Linked DNA regions of Homo sapiens. The protein of the gene in region 2 purifies or fractionates together with the protein of the main gene of each other region. This does not show direct contact. Each region holds a gene or a part of one and is shown on either strand. Other genes may lie near its edges.

Evidence for each region. Proteins that work in one complex are often made in the same cells at the same time.
Region 1: the proteins of CEP72 (region 2) and AHCYL2 purify together in Homo sapiens (co-immunoprecipitation; 3 studies listed by BioGRID and IntAct, with this or other methods). This does not show direct contact.
Region 3: the proteins of CEP72 (region 2) and HOMER1 purify together in Homo sapiens (affinity purification with mass spectrometry; 2 studies listed by BioGRID and IntAct, with this or other methods). This does not show direct contact.

The regions. Positions count from the first base shown.
Region 1 is NC_000007.14:129,227,549-129,235,287, forward strand, and holds part of AHCYL2 (adenosylhomocysteinase 3), read left to right. Parts: intron 1-7,739. UniProt on the Homo sapiens protein: May regulate the electrogenic sodium/bicarbonate cotransporter SLC4A4 activity and Mg(2+)-sensitivity. On the contrary of its homolog AHCYL1, does not regulate ITPR1 sensitivity to inositol 1,4,5-trisphosphate.
Region 2 is NC_000005.10:635,980-643,718, reverse strand, and holds part of CEP72 (centrosomal protein of 72 kDa), read right to left. Parts: intron 6,203-7,739; coding exon 5,901-6,202; intron 4,631-5,900; coding exon 4,495-4,630; intron 3,312-4,494; coding exon 3,115-3,311; intron 1-3,114. UniProt on the Homo sapiens protein: Involved in the recruitment of key centrosomal proteins to the centrosome.
Region 3 is NC_000005.10:79,391,877-79,399,615, forward strand, and holds part of HOMER1 (homer protein homolog 1), read right to left. Parts: intron 5,762-7,739; coding exon 5,651-5,761; intron 5,028-5,650; coding exon 4,947-5,027; intron 1-4,946. UniProt on the Homo sapiens protein: Postsynaptic density scaffolding protein. Binds and cross-links cytoplasmic regions of GRM1, GRM5, ITPR1, DNM3, RYR1, RYR2, SHANK1 and SHANK3.

The DNA of each region.
Region 1 (7,739 bases), on a different chromosome or scaffold from region 2:
CCAGGAAGTTGAGGCTGCAATGAGCACTCTAGCCTGGGTGCTGGAGTGAGACCTTGTCTCAAAAAAAAAAAAAAAAAAAAAAAAGTTAAAAAATCAAAGACCAGCATACTGGAGTCTGTTTTTCTTAATTCTAGATGTGCTTCTTGACCACTTTCCTTGTCGTTGAACCATCTTCCTGTTTTTTCAGCACCAAATGTATGTTCCATGATTGTAGATATACTCAGCAGCCTCAAGGCTATTGTAAAGCAGGGCTGAGCTTGCCTTACAATGTTAATTGCACCAAAAAAACAACTTCTCTGCTGAAAGTTAAGCAGGTGAAGCTCTGGGCAAGGATACAGCTGGATGACGAAATTCAGGGCATTGCTGAGCTGCTTTTCAGGTGCCCAATCTTTAACCTTCTTGATATTGAATTGGCTAAATCAAAATAAGTGCCCAAGACTGCCCTTTCCCTAAGTTGAAAGTCATCTCACCAAGGAACTGCAGTGTGACATTTTGATTTGTTGAGCCTTTGTTGATTCTTAGATTGTCTATGTAAATAACCACTTTGACCTTGACTCCTTACTGTTTTTCTTATAGCATATGAAGGAACTGAGAATACTAGTATTGAAATAGCTGCCTTTGGCTGTGGAACTGGTGACTGTTGCATTTGTTTTTTAACTTTCATGTATAAACATTTATTTTAAGTCACATTTCCATAGATGGTTTTCCTTACTTCATTCACATATCATCAGTTTTCTTAGTTTTGTTACTCTGCTCAGCCACACAAGGGGAATAAACTTTTTACAAGAGCCAGAATTCCCAAGTGCAGTAGTTAATAAGAAGGAACATATGGTGTGCAGGTTACTCAATCACATCTTATCTTTGGCACCTGCCTCCGTCCTGTAACTTGCGATGCTCTGGGGGCCAGATCATGTTATGTGGCTATGATATATTTAATTATAGTGTCCTTTTTCATAAGTTGACATCAAGTGAACCCAGCAAGCCAAAAATCTCTATAAGAAGTAATTTGGGAAATGGGAAGGTAAGTTCCACAGGGAATGAGGTAGTACTAGCTGAAAGGGATTTCTTCCTTGTGTTCTTGAAAATGAGTGATAGGAGTGTTGGCGCACAGCAGGGAAAACAAGGCAGGAGAGGATTTATTTCAGAAATATTAAAACTTTCTGACAATAAGGCTGCAAGCCCAAGAACCTCAACTAGATTGTGCTTACATCAGTATCAGTAATGACCGTGTTCAAACAGACCCTTTATTGCTTTTGGCAAACATATCCACCTTCCACTGGCTTTGTTGCTGTCAGGAGAGAATGAGTTGAGCCATGTTAGCACTTCTTGTCCTGAATTGTTTAAGCTCTTGATTTGGTTAATTATAGAGTACTAAAATGGAATGTTTTGGATAAAGACATGGGAATGTGGTAGCAGTATGACTCCTTTTGCCTGTTACAAGAGTACTGCTCTGAAAAGTGTTCAGTAAGGCAATTGGCAGTTGGTCTGTAATAATAGTTACCAATAATTAGCCTTTTTTTTTTTTTTTTTTTTTTTGAGACAGAGTTTTACTCTTGGTGCCCAGGCTGGAGTGCAATGGTGCAATCTCAGCTCACCGCAACCTCCGCCTCCCGGGTTCAAGCGATTCCCCTGCCTCAGCTTCCTGAGTAGCTGGGATTACAGGCATGCACCACCATGCCCGGCTAATTTTCTATTTTCAGTAGAGATGAAGTTTCTCCATGTTGGTCAGGCTGCTTTCAAACTCCCGACCTCAGGTGACCTGCCTGCCTCGGCCTCCCAAAGTGCTGGGATTACAGATGTGAGCCATTAGCCTTTTATGTGCCAGGAGTTGTCATAGGGGTTCTGTAATCCTCACAACCATACTATGAGATGTAGGTGGCATTATTTCCATTTTATAGATGCAGAAATGAGATCCTGGGAGGTTAAGTGCCTTGCCCAAGGTTATACATCTAGAAAGTGTCAGAGGTAGAACTTAAATCCAGGGCTGTCCGTCTCCAAAGCCCATGTCCTTTTCATTATGCCACAGTGATTCTAACTTCTTAGATGCTGAGTTCTTGCTTTCTCCCAGAGGTCTTTTAGAATACTAAGTGAACTCTAAGGCGTGTCTGTCTGGCTAAGGCTTAGGTCATCCCAAGACCAAAGTAAGGCAGGTCTGAGTTAGAGCTTTAGGAAGAGGATGGGAGAAAATTGTACAAATGTAGAACTTGAAAGAATTGTAAATTTAGAAGAGGAGAATAAAAGCATCTTATACAGAAAAGCATTTCAAGATCAATGATGCAGCTTCACACTGGTAATTTACTGATAATCTGAGAAATTTATCCATATTTTAAAAGTTATAAATAAATTTGGAGTACCTGAGGAATATACCCTTTCTTCCTGTTCAGCTAACACTTTTTCCCTATTCTTTAAGCCTCACCATCTCTATGAGTCAATCTTTGATAAGAGCTTTTGAAAATTGCAAAGGGAAGAATATTCCTACTGTATACCAGGCATTGTACTTAGAGCTTTACATATACTGTTTTATTTAATTCTTTTTTTTTTTTTTTTTTTTTTTGAGACCAAGTCTCGCTCTGTCACCCAAGCTGGAGTGCAGTGGCGATCTCGGCTCACTGAAACCTCCGCCTCCTGGGTTCAAGCGATTCTCCTGTCTTGCCCTCCTGAGTAGCTGGGACTACAGGTGTGTGCCACCACACCCGGCTGATTTTTTTAATTTTTAGTAGAGACTGGGTTTCACCAAGTTAGCCAGGGTGGTCTCGATCTTCTGACCTCGTGATCCACCCGCCTCAGCCTCCCAAAGTGCTGGGATTACAGGCATGAGCCACCGCGCCCGGCTATTTAATTCTTTTAAGAGGCCTCGAAGATAGCTAGTGTTCTCCTTGTTTTATTGAAGAAACTGAGTGTCGAAGAGATTAAGGAATTTGTCTCAAGGTTACACGGTAATGTGATGGAACTAACAGAGCCCTAAACTGTTGCTTTTCAATTCAAATAGTACTCTGTTCGAAACTCAGGATGAACCTTCTAAATCTTTTTTTTTTTTTTTTTGAGATGGAGTCTTGCTTTGTTGCCCAGGCTGGAGTGCAGTGGTGCGGTCTTGGCTCACTGCAACTTCTGCCTCCCGGGTTCAAGTGATTCTTCTGCCTCAGCCTCCCGAGTAGCTGGGACTACAGGTGCACGCCACCACGCCTGGCTAATTTTTGTATTTTTAGTAGAGACGAGGTTTCACCATATTGTCTAGGCTGGTCGTGAACTTCTGACCTCGTGATCCACCTGCCTCAGCCTCCCAAAGTGCTGGGATTACAGGCGTCAGCCACCACGCCTGGCCCTAAATCTTAATCTGTGTTTTTTGGGTAGTTTTTTTGTTATTGCACTGACAGTTTCTTTTTATTTATTGCGTGGTTGAAGGTCTTACCGTGTGTTTTTGTGAGCATTTATTTTCTGAGAAAGCAGCCTGAGGTGGGCAGATCATGAGGTCAAGAGATCAAGACCATCCTGGCCAATGTGGTGAAACCCTGTCTCCACTAAAAATACAAAAAATTAGCTGGGCATGGTGGTGCACTCCTACAGTTCCAGCTACTCAGGAGGCTGAGGCAGGAGAATCACTTGAATGCTTGAATGCGGGAAGTGGAGGTTGCAGTGAGCCGAGATCATGCCACCGCGCTTCAGCCTGGCGACAGAATGAGACTCTGTCTCAAAAAAAAGAAAAAAAAAAGCTGCTTTAGGAGCTGAAGTTGCAGTTGTGTGTTTGATGTCTTGAGGAAGACAATTACTACTACTACTACTACTAGTACTACCTACATTCTCAGTATCCAGTTAATTGAAGAAATCGATAGTTCATTAAAAAGGGAGAGTGAGTTTATTATATCATTTCCTTGGAAGTGATTCCCTCCCCCACGAGAGAAAAAAAGTTTGTTGTAATCTTTATTCAGACCCTTTGTCAAGTTTATAAAGAATATGCAGTTTGTTTCATGGTGGTTTTTGTTTAAATAATTTAGAGAGGTACAACTGAGGCAGATGGGAAGAGAACAATCTTGGCAGTTGCCCTGATCCACTGCCCTGCTGTCATGTTTAGGTGGTAGACACAATTAGAGGAGCTGAAATTCCATTCACCCAACAAGAGGTTTAGTAAACTTGATCAGATTTCTATGGAATTTGTAGGAGCTTTTTATAGTCTGAATGACCTATGGCCTGCGATTTGGTGAGAGCAGAGCAGAAAGCGGCAGTGGATTGACGTTTCTTCTGTAACAGTTCCCAACTCTAAAATTACTTTGATTAAATTAGATGATTATTTGTATGGGTTTCAGTCTCCCTTTTCCCCAGCTGTATCGTGCAACAGTTCAGTTAGCTATTTCCCTCTTGGACGCTTGCACTAAAAGCTGGTGATTTTATTTTCTTTTTTTTTTTCAAGGGTCTATCAGTAGAAATCTATTGGTTTGGGGCACCTAGTTCTTAGCTTAGAACCTATATAAAGGAAGGGTATTTGAACTGCTGATTGAGTTTCTCTGAGTATAGGACTTTAGCCTTTCTGAATGTTGCAAACCTGAGGCTAAAACTAGCTTCATCTTCTCTGCACACACTTACATTCTACAGTGCTCCAAGGTGAAACTTCATCTATTGACTACCTTTTCTTGGAAACTCTTCTCTTGGCTTCAGTGTCACTTATAATTGCTACCATTTACTGAATACTTACTCCGTGTCAGGAATCTCTGTCTTAGTATTTAATCCTCATGACAACTTTATCAGATGTGTAGTACTATCTTTATATTATGGATAAGAAAATATAGGCTCAAAGAGAGTAATTAACTTGTCCAAGGCTTTGTCAATGAAATGCTGGCCATAGCAATATTGGGCAGCTTTGCCTCTGTGCCAACACCCGTGCTGCTCTGACCAGACTCCCACTGAAGTCTGCTTAAGCTGCTGCTAAGACCACTTTGGATCTCACAATCTAGCCTCTTTCAAGGGGAGGCCTAAACACCATGCCTCACATCCCTGTTTGTTTCAGTCACTACCCGCCATCCGCCATCCATTATCTTCCCAATACTAATTCCTTTACCACTCTCTTCATCCTTCAGCTGATTCAGTCCCTCAAACTGTTCCACCATGTTCTTTACAATATCCCCCTCCTTGATCAGCAGATTCACATGTAGTATCAGTCTCTAGCAGCAAGATCAAGTTATAAGGGCAACAGTGGCAAGTGTTAGCACTTAGTATCCAGAACTGTGATGGTGCAAACCAAGCTGCAGCATCTCCTGCTTGGCATTAGCAATCACATCTTTGCCAACCCAGTTCTGTAATTTTGAGTGTTGTTTTAGCTGTGTAGCACTTAAGTTCTTCACTGAAAAAGTGACCTCATATCCTTTCTGTAAATTCTTTTTCTGTTTAATTCAGCCAGTGTTGACTTCTGCTGCTTGTAGAACTTGGAGTGATGTACGGGTTGAACCTAACCATCTACCTTCTTAGTTGCTGGCACTCATGGAGCTGAGAGTTGCTAGAGAAAATCAGCAAATTAGACAGATCAGTGTCATTAAAAATTTATAATCATCTATTTCATATGCATAATCAGCATTACCTAGCAATGTTATACATTTCTCTAGTTCACTTTCCAGCTCACTGCGAATTATTTCTTCATATTGTCTCTTTCTCTTTTCTTTTTTACTGAGACAAGGTCTCCCTCTCTCACCCAGGCTGGAGTGCAGTGGTACAGTCACAGCTCACTGTAGCCTCAAACTCCCTGGTTCAAGCAATCCTCCTGTCTCAGCCTCCTGAGTAGCCAGAACTACAAGTGTGCTACCACGCCTGGCTATTTTTTTATTTTTTTGTAGAGACGGTATCTTGCCATGTTGCAGGTCTCCAATTCTCGGGCTCAAGTGATCCTCCTGTCTCACCCTTCCAAAGTGCTGGGATTATAGGCATTAGCCACTGTGCCTGGCCTACTGTCTCTATTTCTTTTTCTCTTTTTTTGAGATGGAATCTTGCTCTGTCCCCAGGCTGGAGTGCAGTGGCGCGATCTCCGCTCACTGCAACCTCCGCCTCCCGGGTTCAAGCGATTCTCCTGCCTCAGCCTCATGAGTAGCTGGGACTACAGGCACGCACTACCACGCCCAGCTAATTTTTGTATTGTTAGTAGAGATGGCGTTTCACCGTGTTCGCCAGAATGGCTCAATCTCCTGACCTCGTGATCCGCCCTCCTCAGCCTCCCAAAGTGCTGAGATTATGGGCATGAGCCACCGTGCCCAGCTCTTATTTCTAATCTCTCATATTTTCTTCTTTTTTAACCAGTCATAGGCTTTATGCCTCATTATAAAAATGGAAGCTGCTGAATGGGAATTCCTTCATTCTTTTACCTCCCAAGTCTACAAACCTATGTGCATCTGGGACTCATCTTTTTCTCCTTCATTCTGTCAAGACCAATCCCTTCACAGGTGCTGTAATCATTCTTTTCTCCCCCTCCCCCCTTCCTCCTCCTTTCTTTTTCTATCTTTCTTCTCTCTCTTTCTCTTTGTTTTCATTCATTTTTCTTCAAGAGATGAAGTCTCACTCTGTAGCCCAGGCAGGAGTGCAGTGGTGTGGTCATAGCTCATTGCACCCTCAACCTCCTGAGCTCAATAGAACCTCCCTTCTCAGCCTCCCGAGTAGCTGGGACTATAGGTGCATGCCACCATACCTGGCTAATTTTTTTATGACTTTCTTGTAGAGATGGGGTCTCTTTTTTCCCCCTAGATGGAGCCTTACTCTGTCACCCAGGCTGGACTGCAGTGGCACTATCTCGGCTCACTGCAACCTCCGCCTCGTGAGTTCAAGCAATTCTGCTGCCTCGGCCTCTCAAGTAGCTGGGATTACAGGCATCCGCCACTGTGCCTGGCTAATTTTTGTATTTTTAGTAGAGACGGGGTTTCACCAGGTTGGCCAGGCTGGTCTGGAACTCCTGACCTTGTGATCTGCCCACTTTGGCCTCTCAAAGTGCTGGGATTACAGGCGCGAGCCCACACCTGGCCAAGATGGGGTCTCTTGCTATGTTGCCTAGGCTGGTCTTGAACTCCCAGCTTCAAGTGATCCTTCCTCCTTGGCCTTTGAAAGTACTGGGATTATAAGCATGAGCCGCTGCACCCAGCCACATTTTAAAAACTTTTTGTAGAGATGGTGTCTCACTTTGTTGCCCAGGCTGGCCTCGAATTCCTCGCTTCAAGCAGTCCTTCTGCCTCACCCTCCCAAAGTGCTGGGATTACAGGTGTGAGCCACTGTGCTTGGCCTCTCCTGTCTTAAAGAATTTCTTCCTTTGGTTTATTTCATCTTTCTACTAGGTCTTTTCCTTCAGAATTCACACTTGCCCTATTGTCTCCCATTTTGAAAACCCTGTCCTTTGACCTGCATATTTTCTGTTGCTGTCATGTTTTTCTATTCTCTTTCACAGGCATGCTTCTTAAAGGAGTTTTCAGTACATGCTATATGTGCTTTTTTCCTCTCATGAATTCCTTAACTCACTCCTGCTATAATATTCTGTTTAACCAAAACAAAACCCTCTTGCTAAAGTTGTTGATGTCCATTAGATTGGGAAACATGGGGGTCTTTTTTTTCAGTCCTCATCTTCTTGGACCTCTTAGCAGCATTTGACATTGACTCCTTGTGAAACACTCTTTTCCCTTGGCTTCTGTGACACCGATCTTTACTAGCTTCCATCTTATTTCTCTAGCTGCTCCTTCTCATTCTTCTTCTTTTTTTTTTTTTGAGGCAGATCTCACTGT
Region 2 (7,739 bases):
TCCAAGCCGCCAGCACCTGCGGCCAGGGTCCCCAGGGATCCCGTCTCACCTGGCTGCTGCTCTCTCAGGCACCAGCAGGCACATCCTGGGGCCGGGGGTGCTGAGCAGGCCCCAGCTCACTGCCACCAGGGGAGGGAGCGCCTGAGTCTGTGCAGCAGAAGCCTCGTGCTGGGGGTATCGCCGCTTCATCCTTCTCCGCTCAGTGAGCCCACCCGCCGACAGCCCCCTCAGCATGCATGCACCCGCCAGGCCCCCGACGCCCATGGTGAAAGCTGATCGCTGGGTCTGAGACCATTCCCCTCAGGCTTATCTTGGCCCGTTCTTCATTTCGCGGACTTCTCCCCAAGGTGTCTGCTGCAGTGGCGCCAACCAGCATGACCTGCCCTCCGCGCGGGGCTTTGGGTCGTCCAGAAAGCTCCTGGCAGTGCCACGTCTCATGGTTTTGCCTCCCAAGGATGCGGTGAGCTCTTAAGGCAGGGCTGTGAGCTCCCAGCTCTTTTTCATTTGTTTCTTTGAGGCAAAGTCTCCCTCTGTCGCACAAACTAGAGGGCAGTGGAGCAATCACAGCTCACTGCAGCCCCCAACTCCTGAGCCTCCTGCCTCTACCTCCCAAAATAGCTGGGATGACAGGAGTGTGCCACCACACCTAATTTTTTATTTTTTGGAGTCTAGGCCACGACAGGTGCAGGGAACAGAGGACCGACTGCACCCAAGCTGGGCGCAGCCCATCTGCCTCAGAGGCCGTGCCAGGCACAGCAGCTGGAAGTGGGGCCACCTTGCCTCAGGACACCCGACTGCAGCTTCCAAAGGAAGCAAGGTCTAGGTTCATGTGACCGAGGGATGAGCGTCCTCACGTGGCAGAGTAAACTTGGGTGCTTCTGGAGTGACAGATGTGGGCCTCCCTGGAAAGCAGTGCCCACCAGCCTGCACGGCTGCTCCCTCCGCGGGGTTCCTGACGGTGCTGACTGCTCCTTACCCGCGGGGCTCGGGCTGCCAGATTCTTCTGGATCACTCACCCTGACAGGGAACCAGGGCTGCTCTGTCCAGAGGCCCAGGGCTGCCTGCAAACTGCAGGGGTTAGGCAAACTGCAGAGGGCAAAAAAGCAGGCGTCCACGGCAGCCACAGCTGCATGTGACTCTCACCCCTGGCAGCACTGGTGCTCGGCACACCTTTGGGCTCCGCCTGTCAGCTCTGTCTCGTCCCAGGCTCAGAAGGGCAAGGGGTGTGCCTGACTGTGTCCCACAGAAAAGACATCATCAGTGACGGCGCCCAGCTCACTTTCCAGACAGCCGGTCACGTGTGTTTCAGTATAAAGGCTTCCAGACGGGGGGCCACACGTGTTTAAATATAGAGGCTTCCAGAGAAGGGGCCATGTGTGCTTAAATCCAGAGGCTTCCACCAGATGAGGGGCCATGTGTGTTTAAATACAGAGGCTTCCAGAGGAGGGGCCACGTTGGTTTAAAAGCAGAGGCTTCTGGACGGGGGACCACGTGTGCTTAAATGCAGAGGCTTCTAGATGGGGGACCACGTGTGTTTAAATGCAGAGGCTTCTAGACGGGGGACCACGTGTGTTCAAATGCAGAGGCTTCTGGACGGGGGACCACGTGTGTTTAAATGCACAGGCTTCTGGACGGGGGACCACGTGTGCTTAAATGCAGAGGCTTCTAGACGGGGGACCACGTGTGTTTAAATGCACAGGCTTCTAGACGGGGGACCACGTGTGCTTAAATGCACAGGCTTCTAGACGGGGGACCACGTGTGTTCAAATGCAGAGGCTTCTGGACGGGGGACCACGTGTGTTTAAATGCACAGGCTTCTGGACGGGGGACCACGTGTGTTTAAATGCACAGGCTTCTGGACGGGGGACCACGTGTGCTTAAATGCAGAGGCTTCTGGACCGGGGACCACGTGTGCTTAAATGCACAGGCTTCTAGACGGGGGACCACGTGTGCTTAAATGCACAGGCTTCTGGATGGGGGATGGGGGGCCATGTGTGTTTAAATGCAGAGACTTCTGGACGGGGGATGGGGACCCACGTGTGTTTAAATACAGAGGCTTCCAGATGGAGGAGGCCCACATGTGTTTAAATACAGAGGCTTCCAGATGAAGGCCACGTGCAGAGGCTTCCAGGCGGGGTGGGGGGGCCACGTGCGTTTAAACAGAGGCTGCCTGTGTTGTTTTGCTGTGTTTTTCTTCTCTAAAGAGGAAGCGTTGTGTGGGATCTCTGAGATGTTGGTTCCCATGAAACGGACAGTATGTACTTGTCAGACAAGTTCAGAGGCAGTTTTCGAAGCCGTCCCGGGCCGACTTCACTCGCAATTTAAAGATGCTGACAAGGCCCCTCTGGATGTGCACATCCTCACGTGGCTCTGCCCTCACACCAGGACTCCCGGAGGGCGGCTTCTGCCTGGGTGTGGCTCTCTGACCACCAGCTCCCTGTGCTAAGGATGCCAGCAGCCCGTGGGGAGGCCCTTGCAGCGTGGAGGGAGCCTGGGAGGATCCTGTCCCGTGAGGCCTCAGATGAGACGGTGGCCCCAGCCCACGGCTGAGACAGAGCCCCCATGAGGCCTCAGATGAGACGGCGGCCCCGGCCCACGGCTGAGACGGAAGGAGGGAGCCTGGCTGAGCTGAGCCTGAGGCCCAATACACAGAAATCCAAGGTGATAAATGCAGGTTTTCAGCTGCTGGTTTTGGGGTAACTTGCCCTGTAGCCCCAGCTCACCATGGGACACTGGCCGTCATCTCCTTCATAAAAGGAGAGTGGCCTCGGTTTTCCCCAGTTCGAGGCCCTGAGAGATGGGTCAGCAAGACAAAGTCACGTCCAGGCCTGGCTCCTGCAGCACCCGGCACTGCCCAGTGGTGGAGGGTCCCTTGGGCCCGGGGAGAGAAGGTGGCCAGCGCCACTGCTGTCTCCAAAGTGCTCCAGGCCTGTTGTGAGACAGGGCAGGCCGCGTTCCGGGGGTGGCCGGGTCCCGGGCAGGGAGTGGAGACATGGGGCTGCAGAGATGGCAGTTGGGACAGTGTGGCATCAAGGAGCTGCCCTCGTTCCTGGAAGTCAGAGCCATGTTTCCCCCAGTCACATGGACACAGACACAGCGCCAGGGCGGGCTCACCAGCTCCTTGTGTGTGTGGTGCAGCTCCGCCGTCACCTCGCTCATCTCCCGGGCGTGCTGCTGCTGCTGCTCAGCAAGGCGGCTTTGCAGGGACTTACTCTCCAGAGCCAGGGAGCCGACATCTTCACCCACCATCGCAGAGCTGTCCTGAGCTGCTGTGAATTCTTCAACAGATGACAAGATGTGTCTTGCCTGAGCTAGGAGTGAAAACCAAATATTACATTAGCACTTAGGCTTAAAGGATGAAATGTAAACAAAATCGGCTCAGTATGTTTTGAATCACACAGACGATGCCTCAAAAAGACGACAGGTAGGGAGAGGGGAAAGGGGTGTTGGCGCCACAAAACCACCTCAGGCTCTGTGCGTCCACACACGGGCAGGGTGGGAACTGAAGAAAGAGAAGAGGTGACCTCCAAGAAAAGGGGCAACCAGGGGCCGCCACGTCTCAAGGTTTCAGTGGCGCCGCCACAACTCGCTGCGCCTTCCACAAGCACCGACTGCCCTGTGTGGAAACCACCATGCAGACGACAGCTGGCAACTCCACACTGGGACAGTGGCCTGGGCCTGGGACAGTCCCCCCGCCACCGACGATGGCAAGCTCAGGAGGCTCCCACAGGACACCAGCCTAGGGAGAGGGGAGGTTTATGGGGCTGGGGTCCAGGTGGGCTGCGACTGCAGGGCGTCCTCATTCTAGGAGCTGAGGGGCTATAACACTGCAAGGCGCAGTCAGACAGCTCAGAGCCGTGCCCAGGGTCTGCGGGGAGAAGCACACTGGCTAGGCTCCTGAGGGACACACACAGCCACACCCCAGGATGCAGGACAAAGAGAAGGTGCCCCTGGGGACGCGGCATCTCCTGGTCTCCCAGTGTGATCCTGGATGAGGGAGGCCCCAGTGTGCTCATGTACGGGTTGCCTGGTAGAATCCAACAGACCCAAGTCCTCTCTGGGGAGGGACCACCCTCCTGGGTCCCACACCAACCAAAAGCTCTGCAATCCAGGCCCAGCACAGGCTACACGTCTGGGTCGGGGGAGAAGATGCTGAGCAGCTTCCAAACTCCAAATCCCCATGTGATCACAGCCATCAGAACCAAGCCCCTTTGGACAGCATTTTGAGCAAAATGAGGTGACAGGCCCCCCAACACCCCAGAGCACAGCGGGGGACCCACAGGCCCAGGCCCATGTGGTGTCTCCCGAGAGCCCTGGACACTGTGAGATGCAAAGACTGCCAGGGAGGGCCCAGGCGCGGGACCACCACACGCTCGTGGGAGGGGACATAGGAGACCTGGGGCTGAGATGACTCCTAGGTCACCACACGCAGAGGACCCCGGAACCCACACAGACGCTGCCTACAGGGCAAGAGCAGTGGCCGCCCTGACTCACCAAGGAATGCCTCGTTGCTGTGCAGGGACCTGCAGCCGCCCCAGCTCCTGTCCACCAGGTCCAAGAGCGTCTCCAGGAGCGCCGCCTGCAGGGCCGTCTTCTTCCCGGGTAGAGCCGAGTGTGACCCGGGAGACGGCTGTGATGGAAACAACAGCATGAGGCCAGCGAGTCAGTAACTGAGGTCCTGAATGCCAGCAGGTGCCCAAGCGCACCCTGGGATGCCCTCGCACCACGAAGGGGAGGACAGGTGCCCTGAGGCCCCAGCCCTGAGCCAGGTGGAGGGCGGCTCAGCAGTGCCTGCCCAGTGAGGCTTAGCCAGGTGCACCGGTCCTGGATGAGTGAGGTCTCGATGACAGGACAGGACGGGGCCCACACATTCCCAACTCAAGCAGGCCCCAGACTCCTCCCCTCAACCCAGACAGGGAAGCGGAAGACACATCCAGGCCGCAGTCAGAGCCTGTGTTCAAAAGGAGCTGCCCAGGAAGCAGCCTGCACCCACAGTCAGGCTGGTAGAGGGTGCCAGGCGCTGTCCCCAGCAATGGCCCGGAGTCAAACAATAACCCTGAAACAGACCGCCCACCTCCCCCATCTCTGCCTCCTTCCAGCTCAGGACCTGCCGGGGACGTCAAACACGCCCCACCCAGCTCTGGGACCCCCCCCCACCCCATGCTGCTACGGAGCTGCCTCTAGCTCCGGCCATGCCTCCCTTCCTGTCCCACAGTTCCGCACCTTCAAGCTCCTCTGCCTGCATGGGAGTCTGAAGCCCTCGTTGTGGCAAGTACCAAGTGAACAGCCCCTGCCTGTTCCCTTCTGGGTGGTCTGCACTCATGTCTACAGCAGGTGTGTCTCAACGCCTCTGACTGGGCCTGCGCCAGTTGTCCCCCTGACCTCTAGGTCACCCTGAGGGTGGAGTGACTCGGTCTCTCATCACAGCGACCTCCAGGATCCTCCCCTCACGAAAGGGTCATCAATGGCTCAGCCGGCCAAGATGCCCGATTCCAGCTTTGGAGACAAATGCCCTGTGCACCGTAAGGCAGAGTCCCCTCTCTCCACCACGGGGCTTCCACTCAGAACAGCAGCGCAGGACAGCGTGTGGCACAGAGGCACACGTCCAACAAAACGCAGCAGCAAGCACCCTGGAACCCTAAGTGTGATGATTCCCTTTATCCTGGGACACGGTCAGTGCCGTAGGCGTAATCACGGCACCGCCAAAGCCGTAACAGCCCCGCATCAGGGAGGGACACGGTCAGTGCCGTAGGCGTAATCACGGCACCGCCGTAACAGCCCTGCATCAGGGAGGGACACAGTCAGTGCCGCAGGCGTAATCACGGCCCCGCCAAAGCCGTAACAGCCCCACATTAGGGAGGCAGTGCCGTGGGCCTGCTGCTCCCCAGCCCTTCTCTCACCTCTCTGGTGTCGGTCACACCCCGAGACCTCTGCTCCTCAGTCTCCGAGGCCTCAGGCTGAGACAAGGTCCTCCCGTTCCTGCTTTCTGAGCTGTCCTGTCTGCTCAGGCTCTCCTTGGGCACGGAGGACCCATGAGTTCTCTCCGGGCAGCCCAAACCCTCCTGGTCCGAAAACGTCTGGAATCTTCCAACAGGCATTCTTCGCTTCCTGCACTTTCCGGGGGCTGGCAGGGGACCAGGCACCATTTCTCCTGACAAATCCAACTTCTGAGAAGAGGCCGAGTCCTCGGTATCCATGGAGTCTGAGATATAGAGAGGATGGGGCGCACGTCAGGCCAAATTCTCTGGGTGCAGTGTTCAGCACTGTAACTTTTAAAAGGCATGTGTGTGCCCATGTATATACACACATGGACACACACGCACACTTACATATGTACACGCACACCTATCCACGTGCATACATACATCCATACACCTGCACAAAGGCACATGCAGAGGGAGGGTGCCGAGGGAAGAAAGGGGCATACTGGGGCACACGTGCTAACACGCAAACTCTGGGGGAGTCTGGATGAAGCAGACACGGACCGCCCAGCTTCGCGTGTTCACCCCGTGATGACCGACGTGCAGTACGCTTCAACAACGCGTTCCAAACAACGTCTAAGCACACGCCCATCTCTGAAGACAGGTGAAGTGACAGACTCTGATGGTCCGTAAAGTGGTGGGTCCCGTGCACTGTACCGACCACTAAGCCCCCAGGACACACAAGACCCGGGGGAAGGCAAACTTGTCTGTGGAAGGACAATGAAGGCAGGAGAAGGCACAAAACGGGCACAGCCTTGGCCTCCACCACAGCCTGCTCAACTCAAGATGACCCATCACATCCTGCAGCGGCTGACAGACAACCTGGCTAGGTCCCCTGCCTCTCACCAGTTGGGCATGAGCAAGCTTCCAGGAGGCGCCAGGGTCACGCGAGACAAGGTTTCTCTTTTTCTTTTTTTTTTTTTTTTTTGAGTTGGAGTCTTGCTCTATTGCCCAGGCTGGAGTGTAGTGATGCCATCTAGGCTCATTGCAACCTCCACCTCCCAGGTTCAAGCGATTCTCATGCCTCAGCCTCCTGAGTAGCTGGGACTATAGGTGCCCGCCACCATGCCCAGATATTTTTGTATATTTAGTAGAGACCTGGTTTCACCATGTTGGCCAGGCTGGTCTTAAACTCCTGACCTCAAATGATCCGCCTGCCTCGGCCTCCCAAAATATTGGGATTATAGGCGTGAGCCACCGTGTCTGGCCTGCTCACGGCAGGAGGTTTTCTGATACTTATGCCACATAGGTGGCCATCACATGGTATCACGTGACACTCTTGGTTAACTTTTCTCGCCTTTGATTTTCAAAATGTAGCTATTGCCATAACCTGGGCCCATACACTTAAAAGTGTGTGTGCATTAGTGAGAGGGTGAGGGAGGGTGTGCACACACACACGTGCAGAGAAAAAGCACTTATTTACCAACCATGAATCTAAACCATGAATGGATTATAAATTTCAATGTGCTGCATTCTTTCCAAAGACATTTTGGAGAGTTCCACAAACAAATAAATACACAGAGAACAGGAGAAATTTCATAGTAAAAGCAAACGATGTGAAAAATATTTAACTACTTAAAAAGGAACTGAAGGGAGTAAAAGTTGACAGGGATTTCATGTTGCTGTAGTTCGAAGGAACCCCCCAAAGTTCCTAAGCTGGAAACTTATTGCCACTCTAACAGTATTAAGCGGAGGGCCTTTAAGAGGTGAACAGGTCACAGGGCCAGCCCTCAGGGAGGCAGGAATGCTGTAGCACAG
Region 3 (7,739 bases), about 79 Mb from region 2:
ATGCACAGCATGACAATGCATGACAATGTTTTGATCAACCATGAACAGCATATGCAACAGTGGTCCCATAAGATTATAAGGGAGCTGAAAAACTCCTATCACCCAGCAGCTGCCATATCATCACAGCACAATGCCGTACTCATGTGTTTGTGGTGATGCCGATATAAATAAATCTACCGTGCTGTCAGCTGTATAAATGCATAGCACATACAATTATGTATAGTACATAATACTTAATAAAAATAAATGGCCATGTCACTGGTTTATATATTTATTATACTATACTATTTATTACTATTCAAGTTATTTTAGAGTGTACTCCTTCTACTTATTTAAAAAAACATTAATTATCTGACAGCCCCAGGCAGGTCCTTCAGGGGGTATTCCAGAAGAAGGCATTGTTATCATAGGAGATGACAGCTCCATGCCTGTTATTGCCCTTGAAGACCTTCTAGTGGGACAAGATGTGGAGGTAGAAAACAGTGATATTGATGATCCCAACCTTGTGTAGGCATCAGCTAATATGTGTGTTTGTGTCTTCGTTTTTTAAAAGAAGTTTAAAAAGTTTTAAAAACATTTTTTAATAGGAAGAAAGGTTACAGACTAAGGATATAAAGAAAATAGTTTTCTACAGCTGAATACATGTTTATGTTTGCAGCTATTACAAAAAAGTAAAAAGTTAAAAAAATTTTAAATGTTTATGAAGTTAAAATGTTACAGTAAGCTAAGGCTAATTTATTATTGAAGAAATAACATTTTAAAAAATAAATGTAGTGTAGTCTAAGTGCAGTGTTGATAAAGTCTACAGCAGTGTATGGTAATATCTTAGGTCTTCAAATTCACTCACCACTCACTCACTGACCCACCCAGAGCAACTTCCAGTCCTACAGTTCCATTCATGATAAGTGTCCTATTCAAGTGTACAATTTTTACCTTTTCTACTGTATTTTTACTGTACCTTTTCTATCGTTTCTACTGTATTTTTACTCTACCTTTTCTGTGTTTAGATGTGCTTAGATACAAATACATGAATACTTACCACTGTCTTACGAGGGAGGGAGGGAAAAGAAGGGAAAGGGAGAGAGAGAGAGAGAGAGAGAGAGAGAGAGAGAAGAGAGCCATCCAGAATAAAACAAAGCAAATATAGCCAAAATGACATTTGGGGAATGTAAGTAAAGGGTATATAAAAAATTTCTGTATTATTCTTGCAACTTTTCTGTAAGACTGAAATTATTTCAAAATAAAAAGTTTAACTAAAGAACTTATTTATGTAACCAAACACTGCCTGTTCCCAAAAACCTATTGAAATAAAAATAAATAGCTTAAAAACAAAATAGAAATAAAAAACAAGATCATTTCAGCTAGTGATAAGTACTAAAAGGAAAATAAAAAATGGTAATACTACAAAAAATACCTGGGATGGGGTGTGGGGACTGTAGCATAGTCCTTAAATTGGGAAGTCAGAGAAATTAACATCTGAACTAAGACCTAAACTAAAAATAGAAGCCAGCCATCTGAAGATTTGGGCAAAGAATTCCAGGCAAAGATATTCCACATGCTCTAAGGTGAAAATGCACTCGTGACTTCAAGATACAGGTAAAGACTAAATGCATGTGAAAAATTGTTCAATGTTATTCATAATTTAAAAATTAACTAAATAGTTGAGTCACTTCATTTCTTAAGAGATGGCAAAGAACGGGTCCAGGGGGTACCAATATCCAGTGGGTACCCTGCTTTTCCAGATGTCAATTTCCCAGCATAAGAAATTTTAAAACATTGACACCAAGCAATTCTTGTTTGAAAGTTTATCTTAAAGAAATAATCAGAAAGGCAAAGATTTATGAAAAAGGTTGTAATATTATTTATTTATAGCATAACACTGGAAACAACATAAACTGCCATTACTATAGGAATGCTGGAAGAAAACTATGATACCTCTATATGGGAGAATTCTATGCAGCCATTGGGCTTATGACATAAAGTTAGATAAAAATGTATACAAACAAAAAATGGTATCTATATCCATCTCTTATAAAGAAAATATTATCTAAACCAACACTGGGACAAGGAAATGCCAGTTACCTTGCCTTAAGATGACAGGATTATGATTTTTTTAATATTATGGAATTATGATTTTATACTAACCTTGCTAAGTACATTTTTTGAAATTTTTCTAATTTTTTTTACAATGGGCATGTTTTTCATAGACATTTATAACAGAAATATCCAAATATTGCCAAATATCAAAAACTCATAAATTAGAAAAACTGTAGCACGGTATCCTTAATTTACCAATAACTATACATTTTCTATCCACATTCAACTCTAAATACTAATCCAACTCTAAATACTGCAATTTCAGGATTCTTTTCCAAGGAATTTAATGATCCCAATTTTCTGTACTGAACTTATGAATGGAGTTCAAGGGTGCTGGGACCTTTGATAAACAGGAGATGTTTCTGTGGGAGGGAGAAGGCTGCAGAGGAGGAAATTTCTTTGAATTGGAAAAAATATGTTATTTTCTGTAGCTTGTTCTTTTAGAATTCATCCTCAGGTTTTCTAAAAGCTTCCCTGTCCTGTTCTAGGTAGGTTGTTTTGATAATATTTTTGATATTCAGTGAAAGGATGGGTAAGAATTATATTCACAATTTCAAGTGCCAGCTATAAAATTCAATTACTGCTCTATCAATGATGAAATCCATTCATTCATACATTTATTGAGAAAGGGTCTCATTCTGTCACCCAGGCTGGAGTGCAGTGGTGTGATCATAGCTCACTGCAACTCCCAACTCAAGCGAGGCTCAAGTGATCCAAGCAGCTGGGACTACAGGTGCACACCACCACTCCCAGCTAATTCTACTGTTTCATTTTTTTGTAGATGCAGCATTTCGCTATGTTGCCCAGGTTGGCCTTGAACTCCTGGCCTCAAGAGATCTTCCTGCCTCAACCTCCCAAAGCACTGGGATTATAGGCATAAGCAACTATGCCTGGCTTCAAATACATTTAGAATTATCAACATTAGAAATTTGATATAAATATATCATCTCTTTGTTTCTCTTCATAAGTGAGACAATGTAAATGTGTATATAACTGAAAATACTTTTTAAAAGAATCATTAAGGATGACTTGACTGTTTGTTGCTTGAAGAAGTGTGGTAATGCAGAAAGAACGGACTTTGGAATAAAATAAATCTAGGCCTCATTACTTTCTAGCTAAGTGCCTTAATTAAACTTGTTAACACCTTTGAACTGCTGTCTTCTCTTTGAAAATGGGGATACCTCACCTGCTACTGTGAGAATTAGAGCTAATGTAAGTTAAGTGCTTAACATATGCTTGAATCATCGCAAGTACCCGAAACCCAAAACAAACGAAAGACAAAACTTGACTGAATTTCCCCCTTTCTTCCAGCCCTGATTCCATGCTTCATATTTAAGTTCTACATCAGGATTTCTCAACCTTGGCATTATTGACATTTTGGGTTGGATAATCTGATTCTTAGCAGCATCTCTGGCTTTGTCTACTAGATATCAGTGGCGCTCCACTAATTGTGAAAATAAAAAATGTTTGCACACATTGCTAAATGTCCCCTGGGCTTCAAAAGTGCCCCAAGTTGATGACCACTAATCTATATAGACGACTAAAATATACAAACGGCATTTAATAGGGCCAACCAAAACAAGTGATCTCATTTTTCCCAGACTACTGAAAGCCAGTGATGGGAAGGGGAGAGGTAAATATTCCATTTTATATAAGGAATCTGTTTATTTCATGAAGGATTATTATGAAGGGGTTTAAAGCCCATGTCTTTGACTACTAAAATAATGTATTTTGACCATTATCTTAGTGGTCAAAGATTTGGATTTTAAAATTTGACTGTCTCCATTTAAATATAGGTTGGACAAGTTAACCTCTCCAAGCTTCAGTTTCTTCATCTGGGTTATTATGACTGTTACATGGATTAAATGCATAATACAGGTAAAGTGCTAAGCCCAGTGTCCGATATGTTGCAAGCACTCAATAAATGTTGGCTGTTCTTATTATAATCTAGGTCCTCTTTCCAATCCTGGGCTTTCAGGTCCCTCTTATTATGCCTTATCTCAGATTCCTCACTCTATACATATACTTATTTCTACTCCAAAGTCATCCTAACCCTTCTTTATTGAGGCACCTAACGCTGAGGGTGTAAGAAAACTGCCTGAGCTGGCAAGAGAAGACTTTGGTAATAAATTCTGAGAAATCTTCCCTTACCATGTCTGACTATCACTGACACATGATGTTTTTTGTACACTGGAATCAGGAAGAATACTATTTATGCAGAAAAAAGTGAGTAAAATTAATTACACTGAAGAACGAAAAGTACTAACTTGTGTTCCATTAGGGCACAACTATTGGTATAATTCATACATTAGTACATTGTAAAATAATAATAATAATAATAATAATGTTCCCAAATTGAATGAAATCAATTTGCAAATTTTTCTTTAAATTCAGGGTTTTCTTTCTTTCTCTCTCTCTTTCTTTTTATTAAGACAGGATCCCACTCTGTTCCAGGCTGCAGTATAGTGGTGTGATTATGACTCATTGCAGCCTCAACCTCCTGGGCTCAAGTGATCCTCCTCCTCAGCATCCCAAAGTGCTGAAATTACAAGTATGAGCCACCATGCCCAAACCCAGAGTATTTTTTTTTAATTAAAAGTAGAAATTTCCAAAAGGATTTACTAAATAATTTACAATTTATAAATGACCATCTATGATAATTATAAGCTACATAGATGAAGTTATCAAGTAACTTTTTAAAAATCAAAGATTAGGCATGAATCAGAAGTCCCGGAAAAGAAAAATGACCAAAAACCTACAAAATGGAGTCTCAGAAAAAAAGTCAGTGCTATGTGAAAAAATGATGCCTTTCTATGCAGAAGTGAATAACAATTTTTACTACAGCTCACCTGTAGTTTCTGAGTCAAAGAATCCCTCTGTTCTTGTAGTTCTCTGGCATTATCAATTTCTTGTTTTAACCTTTCTATTTCCTAGAAAAGACAGAGCAATGTCTTAACATTCAAACTATATCAAGGCAAGGGAAGGTCTTGTTTTTCCCTGAAATTATTGTTCTAGTTCTTAGAAAAAGATGATTTTAAAAACATTCCTTCATATTGACTTTTAGAGGGATGAATTCATCTTTATATGTATGTTGTCTAGAACAATAATCTTAAGCAACAGCAACAAGTCTAACTTGGTGCTTCTGGTACAGCAATGCTTAGAAATAACAACCTGAACATTTTAATGTTGCTTCAAGCTTTGTGGATATAATTCTTTCCTAAGATATTAAAGTTTTGACTGGAACCCAGAGAAACCAACAGCTTTTAAAATCCATTTAACCCCTAATGATTTTCTGTTGACTGTATAAATGCAACTCTCATCTGGAAGGCAACAGGTGGTATCTCGGTCTGACTGCCTCACCACAGTTCATAATAACAGAAATAAGGATAGAGAAAATATGAGCAAGCTTAATACCACTCAAGAAAAATTTCATCCTAAAAAAGAGGTCACAACCTGACTTTATTCCATAAAATACTTTTAAATTTGACATGGAATCTAATACTTTGTACAAACATGTTAGCTAGATTACAGATGAGTAAAAAGCAGCAAATACCTCTTCCTTCAGTTTCAGTGTCTCTTCCAGTTCTTGTATTGTCTGATTTAATTCTGTCTTATGAGTATGTACTGCATTTGCTTGGCTACTAACACATTCAAGTTCAGTCACCTAAAATTAAATGAGAACACAGATTAACTTAAATTTCAACTTTAAAGAGTTTCTTGCTAAATACATAGCCCCAAATAAGTGAATAGTATATTCTGAATAAATATATAAAAATTAATTTTGAGAAATATTAAGACACTCAAGGTAGAGTGAATAGATTCTTCAAAGATATAAAACTAGGAAAAGGGAAAAATAATCATTTACATGGCTTAGTCATAGAAAGGTTAGGATAACTTAAATTAAGTGATTAATGACAGTAGAGAATCCCTATAATGAAAGTCTTCTGTAAAAATTTCTTCCAAAAACATATTCAAGATCAGATATGACCATCTGTCCTTCATCTGTAGCCTTCAAATTCAATATGGGTTCTGAAAACTGGCCTTGCAGAAGTGAGAATTTTTTCAAATACATTTCCAACATGTAAGAGAATCTGGAAGAGAAAATAGGCTTAAAATACAACTTAAATCATTAGATACTGGAATGACTTTACATCAACAGTGTCTCTTACGGGTAAGATAAAATTTTGTTAGTCAATAAGAATTTACTGGGGGCCCAAAGAGTAATATAACTTTTAATGAGCACTTGGTATTTTTTGAGAGAACAGAGAGGGGCACTGTCCTTCAAGTTATACCATCTAAAACTAGAATCAGCAATAGACAGAAGTCAATATAAATACACACACACACACACACACACATGCACACACACACCCTATCACAGTTCTTTACATATATCATGTGCTCATAAAATTTTGGTTTACTAGAAGATAGTAAATTCTAGACTATTAAAGAAACAGAGTAAATCCCTCTCCCTGGCATTTTCCAAATATCAAATTACCCTCTACATTCTGTGATTCTCTCTCTTATATAATTTTCTTCCTTTCTTCTCATGTACTAATAGCCTCGTTACAAACCCTTATCATCCAGACCTGAACAAAACCAACAGCCTCCCAGTGGACTTAATTATAATCTTTTTTTTGTCTATTCTGCAAATTGCTAAGATTCATCTTTCATTCCTGTGATTCCACCATTCAAAGACTTTCAGCAGCTCATCTTTTTTACGGTATCAGATCTAAACGCTCAGATCCTCTGTATATTGGCCCCAACCTTCTCAACCATCCACACTGCCCAAGATACTCAGTGAGTACTTCCAACTAAAAGCAGGCAAATCTCCTTGTCCTAAGAACAAGTGATATTCATTCCCAACTTGTTGATTTAACTAGAATGTCCTCTCTTGCCTCTGAAAACCACTCGGACCTAACCGAACCCTTAACTCTTAGCTCAGCATGTGCTTTCTCCAGAAAGCCATTCCTATCTGCTCAAGTCTTCAAGGCTCTCCTCTGGTTCACAAAACCAAGCATCTGTTCAAAAATCTTGGGAATTATTTCACTTATTGTTTAATGTGTATTTGTTTTGTCTCATTATATAATAAATTCCTTAAAGGGAGTTCCAATTCTGATAATGATGAAATAGTTTTTATTGGAGTAACTTTCCTATAGGTAACAATTGCAAATTGTGGGCAAAATGTAAAAGTCAACTGTTTGAAGGACCTGGTGAGTAACCAAATTGGGCAAAAGACTGCAAGAAAGCAGTCACTTTGGGTGATTTCCACATCTTTTTGCCTGAAGGTACTCTGCAGTCTGGCTGCATTGCTTGACTGAACAAGCAGAAATCCATAGTCTTATTTCTCTGAGAAGCCTGAGAATTTTAGGACTCTGCAGAACACCTGGCACAACTAGGAGTAGGAAAAGAGCTGGAAGGCTGAAAGAACTAAACTGCGATGGTGCTCAACAGAGATGACAGTTTGAAGTTCTGCTAGTCCCTGCTAAATTAGAGGGCCTTGGTAAATACCTCAAGCTTTGCAGTGAAACTTTGGAAAGGGTTATGTCTTAGAGATAAAGATTTCCTAGGACAATGTGATTTACCCTAGGGTTACAGCAAAATTGAAATACATGAATTCTAACAAAGCATAAGTACACAAC